Linked DNA regions of Homo sapiens: regions 1, 2 and 3 are each linked to region 4. Evidence: fine-mapped expression QTL. A gene starts in region 4. Each other region holds a variant in brackets. All regions are shown on one strand. Distances are from middle to middle.

Region 1 (2,757 bases), 350 kb before region 4:
AGAATCAAGGAGGTGAATTACCTTAAACCTTGCGGAAAATAAAACAGTGGTAGCACCAAGGCTAGAATCTTTTGGATCTCCTGACTCCCAAAACAGTGCTATATAGTATGTTAAATACCACCCCATAAGCAAATATCATGAAAAGAATTCCTGGAAAAAGTAAAACTAAAAAGTAAATCTCATAAAATGAAAAATACCTAAACATAATCTAGCAAAAATACAATAACAACTTTTTAAAAAAAGTTTTCAAACATCTCAGCTATAATAACAATGAAAGGCATATAAATAAAGGAAGAATCACTTAAACAAGGAATCCACTTCAAAACTTTTTAAATGCCTGAATACATACTTGAATTTGGAGTGGGTGAATCATTAGTTTCATTAACATTTCCTGATCTGGTAAAACAGAATCCAAATCTAGTTCTTGACATTTCACAGCCTAAAAATTACAATAAAAAAGTTACTAATTCAATTCTTATTTCTGAAAATTAAAAAAAAAAGAACAGAATTGTTTAATGACAGTCTTACCTTACTCAAAAACATAGCATAGTAACGATGTAGTGGCAGATGAAAAGTGACTTGGTTAGGTGCTGGCTGGAATAAACAAACAAAATGCACAAGTCAAAGACTATTTTATAGAAATTTTAAGATGGTTGTAAAATGTTTAAACCATACTCTCACCTGGATTTATTCCTATACTTTTAGTTCAAAACTTAACATTTTAGAAGATGCAGATTCCAAAATCACTATAGATAAAATTTTTCCATTTTAAACACTTAAGTATAAGTTTCTTGAAGGCAGAAATTGTATTCTACTCAACTTTGAATCCTCTGAAGCATCCAGTACAGATTAATATTTCCTAAATTCAATTCAGCTAAAGCAAATAATTATTATTAAAACAAGGGATGGAATGGATTTCCAGCTACAGTAGACCATTTGGGACTCTTCAAACGCATGTATACCAAACATCATGACAGTAATAACAGTCACATATAACATTCATTGAACACTTCCTATGTGCCAGTCACCATGCTAAGCACTTTATTCACATTACCACATTTAATCCTCAGAAGAATGCTATGGGGTAGGAGCTACTAATATTCTCATTCTACAAGTAGCAAAATTCAAACTTAGAAAACTTAACTAACTTCCTAAAGTTCAAAAGTAGTGAACTGGGGAGCTAATCTGGACTCCACTGTCATATTCAAAACTGTAAGAAGACTCTGACCACATCCCTAAACAGAGGT[A/G]TAAATGCAGGGCATCGTTAGATTCCTTCACCAGTTAGATAAGATGCTTCCAAACAGTACCAAACGCACCAGCCTCCATAACAAAACTTCATAAAAAATATGTGAATGACCTTAGGCATTCCTGTAAATATTACAAAAACTGTATTTTAAATCTGTGAATCCCATGGATCACAAAATCACTACAGGGCAAAAATACACCACAGCTGTCCTTCTTAAACAAATGAGTTAAGAACTGAAAAGGTATTGTTTGTTTTTAATGCTTTTTAAGTTCTTATTAAATATTCTCTTGTTAAAAATGTTTATCCCGGACATTCAGATAATTATGCTAATGTATATAATTTACATTATAGAGGTTATAAGGAGTCTAAATATGTCACCATCCCTGAAATAATTATTTTTTTCAAAACCAGTAAGATAATAATATCCTCTTCAATATGTAAAGGCTATAAAAATTTGTTCTAATAAATAAAAGTTTGCCCTCCATAAAAAGAAAGGAAAGTCTAACAATGTTCTGTAACATGAATAAACCTTCGGGATATTATGCTAAGTAAAATAAGCCAGTCACAAAAAGACAGTAACTATATGATTCCACCTATATGAGGTTCTTAGAGCAGCCAAATTCGTAGAGATACAAAGTAGAATGGTGGTTGCCAGAAGCTGGGGGAAGAGGAAATGGGGAGTAGCTATTTAATGAGTATAGTTTCAATTTTATGAGATAAAAAAGTTATGGAGATTGGCTGCACGACAATACAAATACACATAACACTACTGAACTATACACTTAAAAATGATTAAGATAGTGAATTTTATGTTTTCTGTGTATTTTACCACAATTAAAAATAAAATTTTAAAAAGTTTGCCCTCCATTACCATAATCGCCTTAGTAACATATTCTACACTAACTAGCTAAGTCAGAATCTCCCTCAATTTCCTTTGAGGCACTAAGCACAGTGGATAAGTGCAGACTCTTTTTTTTTTTTTTTTTTTAAATAGACAGGGTCTCACTCTGTGGCCCAGGGTGGAGTATGGTGGCACGATCACAGTTCGCTGCAACCTCCACCTCCCGGGCTCAAGTCATCCTCCCTCCTCGGCCCCCTGAGCAGCTGGGACTACAGACACACACCACCATGCCTGGCTAATTTCTGTTTTTGGTAGAGACAGGGTTTTTGCCATGTTGCCCAGACTGCTCTCGAACTCCTGGGCTCATGCAATCTGCCCGCCTCAGCCTCCCAAAGGATTGGAATTATAGACGTGAACCACCAGGCCCAGCCTAGGTGCAGACCCTTTTTTTGAGTCTCGCACTGTCCCCCAGACTGGAGTACGGTGGCGCGATCTCAGCTCACTGCAACCTCTGCCTCCCGGGTTCAAGCAATTCTCCTGCCTCAGCCTCCTGAGTAGCTGGGACTACAGGCATGTATTACCACACCGGCTAATTTTTGTATTTTTAGTAGAGACAGGGTTTCACCATGTTGCCCAGGCTGGTCTCAAACACCTGACCTCAAGTGATCCA
Region 2 (2,757 bases), 200 kb before region 4:
CACGCCTGTAATCCCAACAATTTGGGAGGCTGAGGTGGGCGGAATCACGAGGTCAAGAGATCGAGGCCATCCTGGCCAACATGGTGAAACCCCCTCTCTACTAAAAACACAAAAATTAGCTGTGCATGGTGGTGAGCGCCTGTAGTCCCAGCTATTTGGGAGGCTGAGTTAGGAGAATCACTTGAACCCGGGAGGTGGAGGTTGCAGTGAGCTGAGATAGCACCGCTGCACTCCAGCCTGGGGACAAAGCGAGACTCCATCTCAAAAAAAACAAAAAACAAAAAACAAAAAACAAACTTGTTACCACCTGATATCTTATTATGGGAACATACAAATTTTGTGGGGCCTGAAGTTTTTATAATGGGGGGGCATTTTTTAAAGAAACAAAATATAAAAATTGCAATTAAAAATTAAGTATGAGCTGGGCGCGGTGGCTCACGCCTGTAATCCCAGCACTTTGGGAGGCCGAGACGGGCAGATCACGAGGTCATGAGATCGAGACCATCCTGGCTAACACGGTGAATTAGCCAGGCATGGTAGCAGGCGCCTGTAGTCCCAGCTACTTGGGAGGCTGAGGCAGGAGAATGGCGTGAACCTGGGAGGCGGAGCTTGCAGTGGAGCCGAGATCACGCCACTGTACTCCAGCCTGGGCGAGAGCAAGCCTCCGTCTCAAAAACAAAATAAAAAAATAAAAATAAATAAAAATTAAGTATGAAAGTGAATATTAATGTGAAAATAAATCATAAATTGCTGGAGTCTTGGAGCTTCAGTTCTTCCTTCTAGGATTTATTTAGGCAATTTACTAGAAATGCTTATGTAAAAATGTGTAGTTGTTGCAACCTGGCTTCCACTTGCCACCTAGAACATTCTATGGCCCTCAGCAATTACCAGCCCTCCCTGGGGTATCACAGTAAATCTGACTCTGCATATTAAATATCAATTTGCTTGTTTGTTTATTGTCAGTCTGTATCAATGGAATGTCTTAAGCTTCTTGAGAGCAAAGATTTAACCTTCTATGTTGCTTTATGCCCAGTGCCCACAACAGGAGTAGGCACGGGGGGCATATCATACATGCTTCTTTAATAAATTGTATCTGTCCCCGAAAATCAACTGGGAAAAAATAATCCTTCCTCCTCTCCCATTTTAGCCACTCTGTATTGTCATAGCTCTGTGTTATTGTCTTTTAGTACTATCACTTAAAAAATTAGCTTACTGCTTACTTTTTTTTCTTTTTAAGATAGGGTCTCCTCTGTCACCCAGGCTGGAGTTGTAGTGGCACAATATTGGCTCACTGCAACCTCCACCTCCTGGGTTTAGGCGATCTCATGCCTCAGCCTCCCAAGTAGCTGGGACTACAGGTGTGTGCCACCATGTTTGGATAATTTTTTTGTATTTTTACTAGACATGGGGTTTCACCATGTTGGCCAGGCTGGTCTCGAACTCCTGGCCTCAGGTGATCTGCCTGCCTTGGCCTTCCAAAGTGCTGGGATCACAGGTGTGAGCTACTGCGCCTGGCCTGCTTGTTTACTTGTTATCTGTGTCCCCTACTAGAGTAGGCCATACTAAGAAAAGAGAGTGTCTTGCTCCCATTTTCCCAGAGTTTTTAAAGCAAGGCACAGAGGAGGCTCTCA[A/T]TAAGTATTTTTTTGAGTAAATGAAAATAAGGCAAATAAAAAACTTTTCACGATGAAACTTGCCATGTACTGCAACTCTCCTTGTACCTCTGTTTTTATTCTATTTATCTGAAAGTTTCATTTAGATACTCAATTATATGCTAATTTAATGAAACATAATTAAGTTTTAAAAAAAGTAAAATTATAATAATCACTTCACTTTACACCTTAGCTAAATAAGTACAAATGCATTTTGATTTGACAGAAAGATTGAGTAATTAATTTGTAACCATCTACTAACAAGATTTGAAAGATACAGGTACTTAATAGTACTTTCAGACACAGGATTTCTGCTCTGAATTTGCACTCACCCATGATTTCTGTGACTTTAGGGAGTATCAAATAGAAAATGCTCCTACGTACCAAGTTTTCTTCCCTGGAGGCAAAATAAAATAAATAAACTGACCAATTTCTTATATATTATTTCTGAAATATGCTATGAAGGTATTAGCAGATATTTATATATTTTTCTTTTTCTTGCACAATTTATAGCATACTATACTCACAATTCTGTACCTTTTGTTTTGTGATTCTGTTTTTTTAATATATCTTGGAGCTTACTAATATTTTTGGCTGCATAGTAGTCCATTGTGCAACAGTGTCTTATTTAAATAATCCTCTCTATGGACATTCAGATTGCTCTCAGTCTTTTGGTATTATAAACAGTGCTACAATGAATAACCTTGTACACATGTAACTTCATACATATGTAAGTATGTCTGTAGGATAAACCCGTAGATGTGTGTTTGGATCTTATAGCAATAAATGACACTCCTCATCCTCACCCAAATTCTAAGCCAATTAGGAAATAAGACAAAAGAGGCAGACAGGTGATTAAAATGTCACTTCATTACTGGTGACAGCTGATGTTGAAGCATGTTGCTTACATTTGCAGATAAGAGAGCTTCCCAATTCTGGATCTCTTTCCATTTAATCATAGGCAATGTTCTTCAAACATAGGTCTCCCCATGCAGGTTTTAGGAAGATGATGGGCTGAATGCGGCCTTCCCAGTTTATTCTTTACAAATTTAACAATTAGAGGAGTCACCCCTCCTTTCTTAGGGAGAAGCAAGTGAGGAGGAGAAGA
Region 3 (2,757 bases), 25 kb before region 4:
AAGAATCTTGAATATATTCATATTCATTGTACCTTTTAACATTTTACTAATTCTATGTACTGGAATATCTGTAAAGGCAACCATTTAAAATAAAATAGTCCTTGGGTTTTTTTTTAAATAACAGTAAGCACAAACAACTTAAATGTCTAACACAATAGTTAAGTAAATTAGTTTGTGATGGACTGCCTAAGAAAATAAGCTTTTTAAAATAACATGAAAAAATGTGTTAAATGCCACATGAAAAAAGATAATTGTACAGTAGTAAGAATTACTTAAAAAATACCCCCATGAAATGAAATACTATCTATGAGAAATCATAATCTTACATATTAAAATTACAAACGTAACATTTTTTCACCAATTGGATTGACAAAAATAAAAAATGACCTCATTTATTGTTGCTGCTGGTAAAGGGATAAACTGATAGAATTACTTGATTGCCAATTTGACAACAAATATCCATATTACAAATGCATTTAAGACTCTCTGACTCAGTAATTCCACTTCTAGGAATTTACTTTATGTACATCCTTACACATTCGCAAAATAAGATATGTGCAAGGTTATTCAATGTACCATAATTTGTAGTAGTAAAAGGCTGTAAACCTAAATGTCCATAAAGGAGGAACAGGTTATAGAAATATAAACCTGTATTTATATAAATATAAATATTTACCTATATTTACATAAATATATTTACCTGTATTTATATAAATATATTTACCTGTATTTATATACATATAAATATTTACCTGTATTTATATAAATATAAATATTTATAATACTTTGATAAATGTATATATAATTTGATATATAATACAAAATAATTTAATAAATATAAATCAGGTATACCACTGTATACCTGTAGAAAGTACAAAGCTATTAGAAAGAATGAGAAATCTGTTCATTTACTGCTGTCTCCAAGATAGGGAGAACTATTTCCTAAAATCTGTAAATGTTAACTTATTTTGTTAAATGAAAAAGAAAATAAGCCAGGCGCGGTGGCTCATGCCTGTAATCCCAACATTTTGGGAGGCCGCTTTGGGTGGATCACAAGGTCAGGAGATCGAGACCATCCTGGCTAACACGGTGAAACCCCGTCTCCCCTAAAAATACAAAAAAATTAGCCGGGTGTGGTGGCAGGCGCCTGTAGTCCCAGCTACTCAGGAGGCTGAGGCAGGAGAAAGGTGTGAACCCGGGAGGCAGAGCTTGCAGTGGGCCAAGATCGCGCCACTGCACTCCAGCCTGGGCGACAGAGCAAGACTACCTCTCCAAAAAAAAGAAAAAGAAAATAAAAGGCTAGATGCAGTGGCTTACACTTTAGAAGGCTGAGACAGGTGGATTGCTTGAGTCCAGGAGTTTGAGACCAGCCTGGGCAACATGGCAAAACCGTCTCTACAGAAAATATAAAAATTAGCTGGGCATAGTGATGCATGCCTGTAGTCCCAGCTACCTGGGAGGCTGAGGCAGGAGGATCATTTGGGCCCAGGATGCGGAGGTTGCAGTGAGCTGAGATTGTGCCATGGCACTCCAGATTGGGCGACAGAGTGGGACCCTGTATCAAAAAAAAAAAAAAGGTTGCCCAGGCATGGTGGCTCATGCTTATAATCCCAGCACTTAGGAAGGCTGAGGCAGAAGGATTGAAACACCAGGCTGGGAAACATAGGGAGAACTTTGTTTCTATTTCAAACAAACAAACAAACAAACAAACAAACAA[ACAAACAAG/G]CAAGGTACAGAAGTGTGTAGGATATACTGTCTTTGTATATTTTTAAAAGAAGAGAGAGCTGGGCGTGGTGGCTCATGCTTGTAATCCCAGCACTTTGGGAGGTCAAGGCAAGTGGATCACCTGAGATCAGGAGTTTGAGAGCAGCCTGGCCAACATGGCGAAACCATGTCTTTACTAAAAATATAAATAATTAGCTGGATGTGGTGGCGCACGCCTGTAGTCCCAGCTACTCGGGAGGTTGAGGCACAGAATTGCTTGAACTCAGGATGCGGAGGTTGTGGTGAGCCAAAATTGCACCAGTGCACTCCAGCCTGGGTGACAGAGTGAGACTCTGTCTCAAAAAAAAAAAAAAGAAAAGAAAAGGAAAAAAGAAAAACGAGAGAAAAACGAAAGTGGGGCCAGGCATGGTGACGTGCACCTGCAGTCCTAGCTACTCAGGAGGATCAGGTGGGAGGACTCTTTCAGCCGAGGATTTTGAGGCTGCAGTGAGCTATGGTAGCATCACTGCACTCCAGCCTCAGACCATCTCCAAAAACAAAATTAAATTAAATTTTACAAGTATGTATTTGCTTAACAAAAAGGCATCTAGGGAGAGAGAAAATGGGTAACTGGAAAAGAGGGCTAAGATTTTTCACTTTATAACCTCATATTTTCAATTTTATACCACATGAATATATTATCTATTAAAAATTATTATAACATATCCCACTCCTAGGTATACACTCAAAAGAAAGGAAATCATATATCAAGGAGATATCTTCACTCCTATGTTTATTGCAGCACTATTTACAATATCCAAGATTTGGAAGTAACTTAAGTATCTATCAACAGATTACCAGATAAAGAATATGTGGGCTGGGTGTGGTGGCTCCCGCCTGTAATCTCAGCACTTTGGGAGGCGAAGGTGGGCAGATTACCTGAGGTCAGGAGTTCAAGACCACCCTGGCCAACATGGTGAAATCCTGTCTCTACTAAAAACACAAAAGTGAGCTGAGCGTAATGGCGCATGCCTGTAGTCCCAGCTACTCTCA
Region 4 (2,500 bases):
GTCCACTCAGGGTTAAATGGATTAAGGGCGGTGCAAGATGTGCTTTGTTAAACAGATGGTTGAAGGCAGCATGCTCCTTAAGAGTCATCACCACTCCCTAATCTCAAGTACTCAGGGACACAAACACTGCAGAAGGCCGCAGGGTCCTCTGCCTAGGAAAACCAGAGACCTTTGTTCACTTGTTTATCTGCTGACCTTCCCTCCACTATTGTCCTACGACCCTGCCAAATCCCCCTCTGCGAGAAACACCCAAGAATGATCAATAAAAAAAATAAATAAATAAAATAAAAAAAAGAAAGTTGCACAGCATATTCCAACAAATATCAGTTTGGTACCTTTAGAGCCTTACTTTGTTGTAGTGATTATCAGCTGAAAATTATGTCTGTTGTAACTTTGGTAAGCATTCCACTTTGGTTATTTATTAGTGGTATTTTTTTTTTAAGTGTCAAGTGTCAAATCTTGGGACTATTAAAATACCATGGTAAGTAAAAAAAAAATATGGTCTGAGAACTGGTACCTATCCACGACATAAGTGCAGAAACTGAGAGTATGAGTTTGCATACTTTCAAAGTTACTCGACAGAGTTATTTCGTATATGCTAAAAAATAATAAGAAAAATCTGTACGTGTCTTTTCCATGTTTACATTTTTAAATTTCATTTTCCTAAGTATATTTTTGTGTATATTATAAAAGTAGTAGACTTCCAAGGACTAGGAGAACAACCTTAGATAGTAGAGAATCACCTAAACGACCTATATCTTCTTCAACAGCTTAAGCTGTGTACTGCGCTAGAGCCTCCCTCAATGAGGAACTACAATGCCCAGAATTCCCCCAAAATGCGTGAGCGACGTCCATTTCACCCACCTCGCCGCGACCCACCCTGGGATATGTAGTGCGTGACTTCCGCAGTGCACGCTGCGCCTGCCGGGCATTTTTTCCTGGTTTGGGGGCAAGGTCTCATGGGAAAGGTCATGTCTCTCGAAGAAAGGTTATAAACCCTGAGATATGAGGGTTGGGCGAGACATCCGAGCCTGTTTCGTTCCGTGTTGGGACCAGGAATAACCCTGACTTCTGAGCTTTCATAACCCCAGGATCCTCCAGAAAATTTGCGGCGCGCTGAGGGAAAACCTTGCTGGCAAGTCGGGACTGTGTGGCAGCGGCTATTTTTCTTTTCCCACCCAGCACGTTTTCGGGCTGGGGACATAGGGTTCAGTTGAGATACGGAGGCTTCCTTCGGGATATTGGGTTCTCTGAAGTGCGGATGGACTAGGGCAGGGCTGAGACCCCATTCATTCACTCATTTGTTTAGCTCTCCTTTATGCCCGGCGCAGAAGATACCCCTTAGGGTCCCAAGGCCCTTCCTGTAGTTAAGTTCCTTCCTTAAGGTCATTCAGCTGGGGCAAAGCTGGGGACTCGACACCTTTCTATGCTAACCATTGAGCTGCCTCCACTTTGAGCAGCTCAGTGGATGAATATAGTATCTTGAGGATACCTTTGATTTGTGCAGGGTTTTCTTGTGCAGGTTTGTGACCCAGGTCAGCTTAGGTCAGGATGCTGTACTGCTTGCCACAAAATAGCCTGTACTGTCGCGTCGTTTTTTCTTGTGAACAGACTGTTTGGCATAGCCGTAGAGAGGGGTCTGAGACATGAATTTAGTGATACAGCGTTGATTTGTTTGTGTAATGAAGCTGTTCAAGTGGAAAGAACTGAGTTGTAGTCCCTGCTTCACTAGTACTAGAAGGATTTTTTAAACCTTTTTGAACCTATTTTGCCTTATCTGTAAAATGGAAATAATATCAACCTGGAAGGTTAGCTGAGAGAATTTAATGAGATAATGTGTTTCAAACGTTCTTTGTAAATGGTAACATGTTGCAGAAATATTAGATTATATGACTTTAGTCCCTGCTTTTCTAACCATTACTTCTCAATTATAAATGTAAACATTTATAGCATATTTTTAAAACAAATTATTCTTTTTTCATAATTATCTTTAGTTCTTTTATTGTTTCAGCATGACTTGAAACATTACTTAATTTCTTAGTATTTCTTGATTGGTGCTTTAATTGTGTCGTTCATTGGTTAAAACCTATCCAAGGCCAGTAATGATTAAATTATATGACTTCTTTTATTTATTTATTTTCTAAAGAAAGGAATTATTTGAGCTCTTTAAGGGCACAAGAAAAAGGGGCAAGAAATTATCCTGAAAGCAAATAAACCTGAGACCATACTTCTGAAAAATTAAAAAAAAAAAGTATATATATATGTATGTATAAATATATATGGCTCTGAATTAATGCCTACACTTTTTAGAAACTTTGAAGGTGATTATTTATTTTAAACAATTTTCCTCTTTTTCGAAAAGACAGCTCTGAGTTTGTGGGCTTTTTTTTTCCTTTTATGGTAAATTTGAAAACTTTATGTAAATGTCAGATTTAAAACACTTTTAAAATGGGGTGCAGAAAGAAGCCCCTTTTTCTGGACATTTATTTTTTGATCAAAT

Direction of the effects. Alleles are on the strand shown, and positions count from the first base shown. SD is a standard deviation of normalised expression in the study named. Not every link is listed here.
As copies of A replace G in region 1, the expression in monocytes after LPS of the gene that starts at base 939 in region 4 goes up (large effect, 1.5 SD a copy in Fairfax 2014).

What was found. PIP is the estimated chance that this variant, and not a neighbour inherited with it, causes the effect.
Region 1: its variant is fine-mapped to the expression of FASTKD1 in monocytes after LPS (Fairfax 2014, PIP 0.95).
Region 2: its variant is fine-mapped to the expression of FASTKD1 in blood mononuclear cells (TOPMed, PIP 0.96).
Region 3: its variant is fine-mapped to the expression of FASTKD1 in CD8 T cells (CEDAR, PIP 0.95). The same link has a PIP of 0.9 or more in iPS cells.

What each region holds. Positions count from the first base shown.
Region 1 is chr2:169,921,766-169,924,522 of GRCh38, reverse strand. UBR3 (ubiquitin protein ligase E3 component n-recognin 3) reads right to left here. Exons shown (of 39, transcript NM_172070.4): 12 at 529-594; 13 at 350-439. Among named protein-coding and RNA genes, the nearest start is that of UBR3, 96 kb to the right of the region's middle. The variant A/G (reference allele first, on the strand shown) is at 1,248.
Region 2 is chr2:169,772,609-169,775,365 of GRCh38, reverse strand. No RefSeq gene overlaps it. Among named protein-coding and RNA genes, the nearest start is that of SSB, 25 kb to the left of the region's middle. The variant A/T (reference allele first, on the strand shown) is at 1,632.
Region 3 is chr2:169,596,824-169,599,580 of GRCh38, reverse strand. The region is part of intron 1 of PPIG (peptidylprolyl isomerase G); the gene reads right to left. Among named protein-coding and RNA genes, the nearest start is that of PPIG, 14 kb to the right of the region's middle. The variant ACAAACAAG/G (reference allele first, on the strand shown) is at 1,718.
Region 4 is chr2:169,572,304-169,574,803 of GRCh38, reverse strand. It overlaps FASTKD1 (FAST kinase domains 1), which reads left to right and starts at 939. Exons shown (of 15, transcript NM_024622.6): 1 at 939-1,135. RefSeq lists enhancers at 728-827, 730-1,332, 1,188-1,357.